Linked DNA regions of Homo sapiens: region 2 is linked to region 1. Evidence: fine-mapped expression QTL. A gene starts in region 1. The other region holds a variant in brackets. All regions are shown on one strand. Distances are between the middles of the regions.

What was found. PIP is the estimated chance that this variant, and not a neighbour inherited with it, causes the effect.
Region 2: its variant is the best candidate, but not a certain one, in a credible set for the expression of KCNAB3 in subcutaneous fat (FUSION, PIP 0.56).

What each region holds. Positions count from the first base shown.
Region 1 is chr17:7,927,405-7,932,664 of GRCh38, reverse strand. It overlaps KCNAB3 (potassium voltage-gated channel subfamily A regulatory beta subunit 3), which reads left to right and starts at 2,809. Exons shown (of 14, transcript NM_004732.4): 1 at 2,809-3,471; 2 at 4,839-4,882; 3 at 4,971-5,008; 4 at 5,242-5,260. The coding sequence starts at 3,230. It overlaps TRAPPC1 (trafficking protein particle complex subunit 1), which reads left to right and starts at 719. Exons shown (of 4, transcript NM_021210.5): 1 at 719-934; 2 at 1,089-1,159; 3 at 1,516-1,654; 4 at 1,931-2,316. The coding sequence starts at 836. The coding sequence ends at 2,059. It overlaps CNTROB (centrobin, centriole duplication and spindle assembly protein), which reads right to left and starts at 459. Exons shown (of 19, transcript NM_053051.5): 1 at 1-459. RefSeq lists enhancers at 1-65, 96-155, 376-425, 766-1,005.
Region 2 is chr17:7,961,615-7,967,099 of GRCh38, reverse strand. No RefSeq gene overlaps it. Among named protein-coding and RNA genes, the nearest start is that of CNTROB, 32 kb to the right of the region's middle. The variant A/TAA (reference allele first, on the strand shown) is at 2,314.

The sequences.
Region 1 (5,260 bases):
CCCAAATCCACTAGGAGCCCAATTTCTGTCCCCCTGCCCTACTAGTCCCTCAATTGGTTCCAGTCTCAAGAGAGGGCGGAACCTCACGCTCCCCCATCCCTTCACCCGTTCTACCCAGGGTCAGCTCCAGCTCCCTTGTACTTTCCCTTCGACCCCTCCTGGCAAGAAAGCCATAGCGAGCTTCCTTGTTCCCTAGAATCTCTCCCTCCCGACCACCCCAAAAGAAACCTTGTGAACCCTCAGTCACGCCCTAAGTCGTCCCTAAGAAGCACGCCGCCCTCAAGCCTAGCCCGAGATCCTCTGCCCCGACGACCACCTGGTTCCGCCTACTCTCCACCCTTCCAGTCCTCAGTCCCCAATTTGCCAAAGTGGGGGGCAAGCGATTGACCTCCTCCCCTGAGATCCCCCTCTCACGCCTCCCCCTACGCTCAAAACCGTTGGCAGCCTCCCGCCCACTGTCCACGGCTCCGCCTCTCTCGCCTCGATGACGTCACCCGCCCGCGAGACCACGCTCGCAGACACTCACATCACTTCTGTATCCCGAGCGCCTGGCCGCGCGTGCGCGGCTCCGGTGGCCACAGATTGGCTGAGGGAGGGAGGCGGAGTCTGACAAGCAGCACTGGAGCGGAGTTAATGCCCAGCCGCGGCCGAGCGAGAACCCCCCTAAGGGGCGGAGCTCCGTGGAAACCGGAAGTAACTCTTGACGGGCACTCGGAGCAGTTCCGGTGAGTCCGTGGGTGGGGTCCCCACCTGGTTGGAAGGCTGTGGGTCCGGGAACCCGAGCCCAAGGAGTGGGGGCGGCCCCGGAGCGAGGCTCACACTCCCTGCCCTGCAGATGACTGTCCACAACCTGTACCTGTTTGACCGGAATGGAGTGTGTCTGCACTACAGCGAATGGCACCGCAAGAAGCAAGCAGGGATTCCCAAGGAGGAGGTGACGAGAGGGCCCCGGTGCAGCCCGGGCGACCTCTCATCTCCAAACACCTATAGTCCCAACCCAGCCCCTCCTCTCCAAACCCCAGCTCGTTCCCACCCCCCACCCCATCTCCCGCATCAACCGAGAGCTAACTCTGCCCCTCTCCCTCCAGGAGTATAAGCTGATGTACGGGATGCTCTTCTCTATCCGCTCGTTTGTCAGCAAGATGTCCCCGCTAGACATGTACGCGGAGTCAGAGAAGATGTTGGGAGGAGGGCTAGCCTTGGGAATTTGGGGATGGGGGAAACTTTCTGAAGTGGAAGGAGCATTGGCCTCCAGAGGGGGGAAAGGGTACTTAAGAGAGGCTGAGTCCGGAGCGAGAGTGCTGGAGCTGGCAGGAGTGGGGGTGGGGAGGGTCTGAAAGTAGAGAAGTTGGTGGGGGCTAAATTGAGGGGTGACGATGGGCGATGTCTTTACTCAACCAGGCTTCTACAAAGGATATGTTTAGATAAAGAGGGAGTCGATGTTTGCGGGGATCAGAAGTGTCTCTTTGGGAGAGATTCTGCTCCCATTCTTTAACACCCTCCTCATCTCTGCAGGAAGGATGGCTTCCTGGCCTTCCAAACTAGCCGTTACAAACTCCATTACTACGAGACGCCCACTGGGATCAAAGTTGTCATGAATACTGACTTGGGCGTGGGACCCATCCGAGATGTGCTGCACCACATCTACAGTGCGGTCAGTGCCAGCCCCAGGGACCCATCCCCCAGAGCTCTTCAGAACCCCAAGACTCCCTCATCTCCCCTGCCCCAATCCTACTATATGTTTGCTCAACTCAAGAGTTTTCTCAGGGGCCCTTAGGTTCTTAACTCCCACCACCACTTTCTCCTCAGAGAGGGCTTGCCTTCCAGCCCTTATTCCTTGTGCATTCACACACCCCTGAGGTTATACAAGGTTTGGGGCTAAAAACCAGAAGTATCCAAAGCCTGGCTCTAACATCTTCCCTTTCCATAGCTGTATGTGGAGCTGGTGGTGAAGAATCCCCTGTGCCCGCTGGGCCAAACTGTGCAAAGTGAGCTCTTTCGCTCCCGACTGGACTCCTATGTTCGCTCTCTGCCCTTCTTCTCCGCCCGGGCTGGCTGAAGCAACCTACCTCAAGTCTCAGGAGAATTCATGTCTGCCTGGGGCCCTTCCGAACCTGTGCCAACTAAGGGCCCCCACTGTAAGCCCCCGCACCCCCACCCCCTGCCCAGAGCAACAGCCTAAAGGCCTGCCCTGATGCTCTCCTCCTACCAGAGTGAAGCCCACAGAGTCCCTCCACCTCCACACCAGGCCCTCTCTCCAGTTTTATCCCCTGCCTAATGCTGCGAGAAGCACAGAATAAACTTTTTGTCACTCTCTGCGGCCTGAGCGTGTTGGTTTGAGGGCCCTCTCAGTCCTGCCCCACGCATGAAGGTGGAAAGTAGGGCAGCCACACCCCCTGGAGGGCCACGAAGTGGCTTTGCGGATGGGTTTCTCAACCGTGGGAATATTGATGCTTTGAGCTGGATAATTCTTTATTGTGGGGACCGTCCTGTGCTTTGTAGGATTTTAGCATCCCTGGCCACCACCCACTAGATGCTGATAGCACAGGCATGAAATCAAAAATATCTCCAAACCTTGCCGAAAGTACGCTGGGAGATACATTCCCTCCCGATTGAGAATCACTGGGCCGGGGGAAGCCTGACAGCCCTTGGGTCCCAGAGGGTGCAGGAGCCATCCTCCCCAATTCCGCTCAGAAAATATTCAAGCTGCAGAGCCTTCAGCAGGCGGGGCTTATGCAGATGAGCGGCAGGTTTGGCTGAGAGGAGGGCGGCTCTATGCAGATGAGGAGGCGGTGCCTGCATGCTGATGAGCTGGGCCCGCTGCCGACGCGGCTGGGAGCCCAGCGGGTCCCGCAGCGGTTCGCGCTGAAGTGGCATCTCTCTCCCGCCCCGCTTCCCCCTGGGTCCTTATCCTCCGAGACCTTTACCTCATCCTCGACCTTTACCCTCATCCATTTCCCCCTCCTAATCCTTGCTCCTGTGTCCCCCGTAACTGAATATCTCCACTCCTGGCGCCCCCCACGTTTCTTCCCTCCCGCCGCAAACCTCGCGACCTCCAGCAGCCCGCCCCCGCGGGCCCGATCCTGCCTGGCGGCTCCCGCCGCAGCCTCCTCAGCCTTCCCGCTCTGCCGGGGTTCGCCCCACTACGCCCCCGGTCGTCAGCCCTCGGGCTTCCCTGCTCCCCCCTCCCGTCCCCTCGGAGCCCCCTCCCCCGCCTCGGCCAGCCAGCATGCAGGTGTCTATCGCGTGTACCGAGCAGAACCTTCGCAGCCGGAGCAGTGAGGACCGTCTGTGTGGACCCCGGCCGGGCCCCGGGGGCGGTAATGGTGGGCCGGCCGGCGGGGGGCACGGGAATCCTCCGGGGGGTGGAGGGTCTGGCCCCAAGGCCCGAGCTGCACTGGTTCCCCGACCCCCAGCGCCCGCTGGGGCCCTCCGAGAGAGCACCGGCCGAGGCACTGGCATGAAATACAGGTATGGGGGTGGCCGGGCAGCCCACCCCTTCCGCTTTCCTTTCGGGACCCCTGAGACTGCTTGAGATGGCCGCCAAGACCCCTTCAAACTTCACTAAGTAGGTCTCCCTTCTTTCCATCTCTTCTTTCTGTCTCTGGCACTCCCTCACTTTGTCCCTCTCTTGGTTTCTGTCGATACCCCTGACTACGAGAATCAAGTTTACCAAGGTTGACTGGGTCCTGTCAGACCCAGGGGATGCCCCTGAGCTTCCCTCCTTACCCCTGGGAAGGTCAGGGATGCATGGATCTCCACGCTACACGGATCTCCAGGCTATGCCTCCTCCAGTGGAGTGTCCTTGGGTCCGTGTCCTGGGGAGTGGAGGGAGGGAATCAGCTTCTCACTCTGGCCTGCTCGGGGTGCCTGACCCAGATACTGCCCCTGCCTGCCCCAAAGGCTAGGTCTTCTGCGACCTTTCTTGGGTGCAAGGGGAGTGGGGCCGGTGGGAAGGATGGACCACATTTTTCATCTCCATGCTGAGGGACAGGGTCTGGGTAGACTGAAATGTAACTGACTTTATCTCAGAGGACTGCCAGACCAGAAGCTCAGAACCTGAAGTAGGGGGTAGAGGAGGGGCTCCTGCTTGGGAGTGAGCTGAGGTCACTGATCTGACCTGCTTTGTCACCTGAGGAATCTGATCCCCTCTATATGGTGGCCCTGATTGGAAAGCTGAGCTGACACCTGGGTTGGGGGCTTTGGGAGGATGAGGGGGCTCACTGGTTCAGAGACAGTCTTCACAAGTCAATAGGAACAGAGGGAGTGGAGAGGGAGAACTAGGCTTTTCTGTCTTACTCTCCCCCCTCCCCCCAGGTCCTCAATCTGCCTTTCCTCCAGGCCCATCTGCCTAGCCTAGCCAGGGACCCCTGTCTGTCTGAATGCCTGAACTTGACTTGGTTTACCTCTTCCAACCTGCCATCTACCATTTGGCACAGCACTCTGCCTGAGGGCCTGGTCTCACAAACTCACCACAATCAAACAAAATTCCTCCCAGCCCCTCACTGCACACAACCCACAGATGACTCAAACACAGACAAGACCCCAGAAGAAGGACAAACCAGACTGCACGTCTTCAATGTGATAAGAGGGAATGGAGACTCTGGACAGTGGCTCCAGAGGAACAGTCACATATGGTTCACTTGTCCTTTTGAGAAAATTCCTAGGACCTCTGCTCTGGAGATAGCACTTGCCCAATCTTATAGGCCCACTGGGTCTAATTTCTTTGGACTGAGACACCTGAGGGCTTCTCAGTCTGGAAGGAGAGGAGCTGGGGGCTGATAATCTAAGTCCATAATGGAGGCTCCACCCCTTCCCGCTGCTTCTGTATCTTGCAGGAACCTAGGGAAGTCTGGTCTTCGGGTATCCTGTCTTGGCCTAGGTGAGTCAGAATAGGGATTAAGGAAAGGAGGGCATTCTTTCATGGTCTGCCCCCTGCAGTTCTCATGTGCCTGGCTTCTCTCTTGCAGGTACCTGGGTCACATTTGGTTCTCAGATCTCAGATGAGGTATAAGTTATCGGACCTAGAATCAGGGTGGTGGGGGTGAGGGAACTTGAAAAAAGGGAAGTGAACCTGGATAGGGGTTTGGACAACAAGCACAGGGAATGAGGGATCTGAGGCTGGAGGATGGGGAGAGGGGAGAGACTAGAGAACCCAGGGCTGAGATGTGATGGGTTAGAGTACAGTGAGGGAGGTAACTGAGGAGCAGTAGTTGATCTTTACCTCTTTCACCTCCCTAGACAGCAGAGGATGTGCTGA
Region 2 (5,485 bases), 34 kb before region 1:
GCTGAGGCAGGAGAATCGCTTGAACATGGGAGGCGGAGGTTGCAGTGAGCCAAGATTGCACCACTGCACTCCAGTCTGGACAACAGAGCAAGACTCTTTCTCAAAAAAACAAAACAAAACAAAACAAAAACAGAAGAAGAAGAAGAGTAGGAACAGCATAACAACATGAAAGCCCGAAAAATAAATACCTAAGCTTTCTTAAACAATACTTTACATCTATACTTACGTGATGTACCTCTATCATTAGTCATTGTGAATGACTGATGTTTATAAGTGACAGAAAAACAGAAATGAAAGACAATTCCAAATAACTGCAAATGTTATAATTAGATTACAAAAGAAATGCCTTTTTTTTTTTCTTTTTGAGGCAGAGTCTGTCTCTGTTGCTCAAGCTGGAGTTCCGTGGCACGATCTCGGATCATTGCTACCTCCGCCTCCTGGGTTCAAGCGATTTTCCTGCCTCAGCCTCCCAAGTAGCTGGGATTACAGGTGTATGCCACCATGCCCAGCTAATTTTTGTATTTTTAGTGGAGACAGGGCTTCACCATGTTGGCCAGGCTCATCTCGAACTCCTGACGTCAGGTGATCCACCTGAGGAGGCCTCAGCCTCCCAAAGTGCTAGGATTACAGGCGTGAGCGACCGTGCCTGGCCGAAATGCCTTATTTTAAACACTTAAGAAAAATAAAGTACATGTAATGTCAAAAAAAATTCCATTTATAAAAGCGATTAAAAAATCTTTAAAATATCTGAGAAAAGATTAACACAAAATGTTCAGGACTTATAAATTGTAAAATCATGAAGCTTTAAGAATAAAAACAGAAAGGGATGCATGGAAAGAAAGAACAAAAATGAGAAATGCACTATTATCAAGAGGAAAATTGTCCTAAATTAATTTGTATTATATCTTGTTTCTTTGATGCCTTCATTTATTATCTCTAGTAATTTTGAGGTGCTTTTCATTTCATTTGCATAACATGATCATTTTATTTCTTCCTTTTCTTTATGTATATCTTTCTTTCTCTTCTCAAATAGCTTTGTCAGAATTTTTAGAGCTACGTTGAATAGTAGTAATAAGATATCCTTGTCTTGTTCCTATTTTAAAGAGGAATAATTCATGTTCTCCATTAAGTGTAATTTTGACTTTTGGTTTTCAATAGAGCCTTTTTGTCATGTTAAAGAGGCAACCTTTTATTGCTTTTAGGGAGAGTTTCCATGAAGAATTCCCTCTGGCATTTGTGGAAATAATTATATGAATTTTTTCCAATAATATTATTGGTTATGTGGAAAATTGAGCTTTAGTGGGGGATGTTTATAAGTGACAGAAAAACAAAAATGAAAGACCATTTGAAATAAGTTCAAAAACAGAATTGGTTAAAAAGTACATGTTCTTTTTTTCTTCTTTTTTGAGACAGGGTCTTACTCTGTCACCCAGGGTGGACTGCAGTGGCATGATGATAGCACTGATCTCAATCTCCCGAGCTCAAGCAATCCTCCCGCCTCAGTTTCCAGAGTAGCTGGGACTATTTTTAGTACAGATGAGGTCTGCTATGTTGCCCAGGTATGGAACTCCAGAGCTCAATCGATTCTTGCGCCTCAGCCTCTCACACTTTTGGGATTACAGGTGTGAGCTACCACACCTTTAAAATTCCTTTAAAAATTATACTTTATTAAAATTTATACTATATTCTGATTGCTAAAATTTTATTTAGAATGTTTGCATATCTACTAATTTATGAGATTACCATGTAAACTATTTTTTATGCTGTTTCATTAGGTGTGATGATAAAAATCTGTTTCATCAAAGGAAATGAGACAATTTATTTAAAAGGTAATATAGGCCAGGTGTGGTGGCTCACGCCTGTAATCCCAGCACTTTGGGAGGCCGAGGCGGGCAGATCATGAGGTCAGGAGTTCGAGACCAGCCTGACCAACGTAGTGAAATCCCGTCTCTACTAAAAATACAAAAATTAACCCGGCATGGTGGTGCGTGCCTGTAATCCCAGCTACTCAGAAGGCTGAGACAGGAGAATTACTTGAACGTGGGAGGCAGTGGTTGCAGTGAGCCAAGATCACGCCATTGCACTCCAGCCTGGGTGACAGAGCGAGACTCCATCTCAAAATAAATAAAATAAAATAAAATACACTACAATATAAAGAGCAATAAAATTAAAAAAAATTTTTTTTAAACTCACTACATTGCCCAGGCTGGTCTCAAACTCCTGGCCTCAAGCAAGCCTGCCTCAGCCTCCCAAAATGCTGTGATTACAGGTGTGAGCTACCACGCCCAGCCTTTTAAAATATATATATATATA[A/TAA]TGCTGGGCACGGTGACTCACACCTGTAATCCCAGCACTTTGGGAGGGCAAGGCAAATCACGAGGTCAGGAGTTCAAGACCAGCCTGGCCAACATGGTGAAACCCCAACTCTACTAAAAAAATACAAAAAATTATCCAGGCGTGGTGGCACGTGCCTGTAATCCCAGCTACTCGGGAGGCCGAGACAGGAGAATCACTTGAACCCAGGAGGCAGAGGTTGCAGTGAGCACAGATCTCACCATTGCACTCCAGCTTGGGTAACAAGAGTGAAACTCTGTCTCAAGAAAACAACAACAACAATAAAAATGTATATGTATATAATATAATAAATAAAAAATATGTAATACATTTGATATACATTGCTCTGTCACCCAGGCTAGAGTGCTGTGGTGCAATCATAGCTCACTGCAGCCTTGAACTCCTGGGCTCAAGCAATTCTCCTGCCTCAGCCTCCCCAGTAGCTAGGACTTCAGGTGCACACTACCACCTGAAAATTTTTTAAAGTCCAATTTCAATAGAAATAAAAGAAATAATAAATAAAACCATAAGGAGATACCAAAATTGACAACTTTTAAAATAATCCCAGTTCAGGATAAAAAAGGGATACATGGATGCTGGAAGTATAAATCAGTACAACCTTAACATTGTACATAAATACTTCAATCCAATGGAGCTTGGTGGAGGGGAGAGGATGATAGGGTACAAATGATATTTAGTTTATTCTTTCCTGCACTTTTTAAGTTTTCTTTTCTTTTTCATTTCTTTTTTTTTTTTTTTGAGGCAGAGTTTCACTCTTGTTGTCCAGGCTAGAGTGCAATGGCACGATCTTGGCTCACCGCAACCTCCACCTCCCAGGTTCAAGCAATTCTCCTGCCTCAGCCTCCTGAGTAGCTGGGATTACAGGCACCTGCCACCACGCCTGGCTAATTTTGTATTTTTAGTAGAGACGGGGTTTCTCCATGTTGGTCAGGCTGGTCTCGAACTCCTGACCTCAGGTGATCCACCCACCTTGGCCTCCCAAAGTGCTGGGATTACAGGCGTGAGCTACCACTCCCGGCCTAAATTTTCTACATATATAAAAATATATTACTTTCATAATAAAATATGCATATTCAAATTGAAACCTCAGTGCGATATCACTGCACAGCCACCAGAATGGCTAAGATGGGAAGCAACAACCATACTGAATGTTGGTGGGAACGGGGAGTAACTGGAACCCTCATGCATTACTGGGAGGTGTATAAATTGGTTCAACCACTTTAGAAAACCAAAGCTAAATCTAGAGCCACCAGCAATTTCACTCCTAGATAAATACTCAACAGAAACAAGAGCACATGTCCATCAAAAAACCTATACAAGAAGGCCAGACACAGTGGCTCACGCCTGTAATCCCAGCACTTCGGGAGGCTGAGGCAGAAGGATCTCCTGAGCTCAGGAGTGTAAGGCTAGCCTAGGCAACATGGCGAAACCCCATCTCTACAAAAAAATACAAAAACTAGCTGGGCATGGTGGTGTGCACCTGTAGTCCCAGCTACTTATGGGGCTGAGGAAAGGAGCGCTTGAGCCGGGGAGGTTGAAGCAACAGTGAGCCATGATCACACCACTGCACTCCGGCCTGGGTGACACAACGAGACCCTATATTAAAGAAAACAAACAAAAAAAACTGCACAAGAATGTTCATTGAAGTTTTAGTTGGAGTATCTTCAAACTAGAATGCCTGTTTTTTAGAACTCAAATGTCTATTTTGTTTTTTTGAGATGGAGTTTCACTCTTGTGGCCCAGGCTGGAGTGCAGTGGCGCGATCTTGACTCACTGCAACCTTCACCTCCTGGGTTCAAGCGACTCTCCTGCCTCAGCCTCCCGAGTAGTTGGGATTATAGGCGCCCACTGCCACACCCAGCTAATTTTTGCATTTTTAGTAGAGACAGAGTTTCACCATGTTGGCCAGGTTGATCTCAAACTCCTGACCTCAGGTGATCCTCCTGCCTTGGAAGGAAGGAAGGCAGGCAGGCAGTCCCTGCGTAGTGGCTCACACCCATAATCCCAGCTCTTGGGAGACTGAGGTAGGTGGATTACCTGAGGTCAGGAGTTCAAGACCAGCCTGGCCAACATGGTGAAACCCTGTCTCTACTAAAAATACACAAAAATTAGCCATGCATGGTGGCACATGCCTGTAGTCCCAGCTACTCGGGAGGCTGAGGCAGGAGAATTGCTTGAGCCTGGGAGACGGAGGTTGCAGTGAGCCAAGATCATGCCATTGCACTCCAGCCTGGGCGACAGAGTGAGACTGTCTCAGAAAGAAAAGAAAAGAAAAGAAAATGCTTAATGTCCTGAAAAATGTTCATCTTCACAATATAAATATATATTTAATAAATAGTATAAGCTAAAGGTGCAAAATAGTATACGTAAGTGTGAGTCCAAAAATGTAGAAAATAAAAGTGTATAAGCATAGGGAAAAAAAACTGTAAGAAGCAGACATACTACTGTATTGGTTTCGGCCCTGGAAATACAGGATATACATGGAAATGATTTCCACTAGTGTCCTCCTCTTCTAGAAATTGAATTGAGACCTGGGTTGAGCTTACCTCAGTGCTCTCTGAAACCTTAGGCTTTCTTTGTGACTTCTCTTCCGCAGCTCTAAGCCAACAAGCTCATACTGAGAAAATCATTATGAAGTATGATTGAAGCGGTCCTACTGCGGTGGGTTGTCTGAGACTGGAATCCCCCTGCGGGAACTAGAGTACCTAAATTCTACCTAAAATATCAAGAAGACTCTGAAGTGATTGCTTGCGTCAGGGAGGAAAAATGTCTTCTCCACCCTCTTAGATGCTGTTCTTGGGGGGCTGTGAATTAAACTGACAAAAGACAGATTAACAAAAGAAAAGATAAAGTTTATTCACATACTAGGAACCCACAAAGAAAATGACTTTATCCATAACTAAAGACAGGGATTTACAAGCCTACCTTAATAAGGGTAAAGGAGCAGGGAGGAAAAGGCTTCTACTGGAAGAACAAATGGGTTTATTTAGGAAAGACAAATGTATTTTTAGGAGAACAAACCAGGAGACAAGATGGTTCTTCATCATGTTTGTTTGTGGTCTTCTTCATCTTCTTCACAGCCGTGAAACTCCTCCAGAGAGGGGGCTAGTGGCAGTCTCACTCCCAGAAGTTT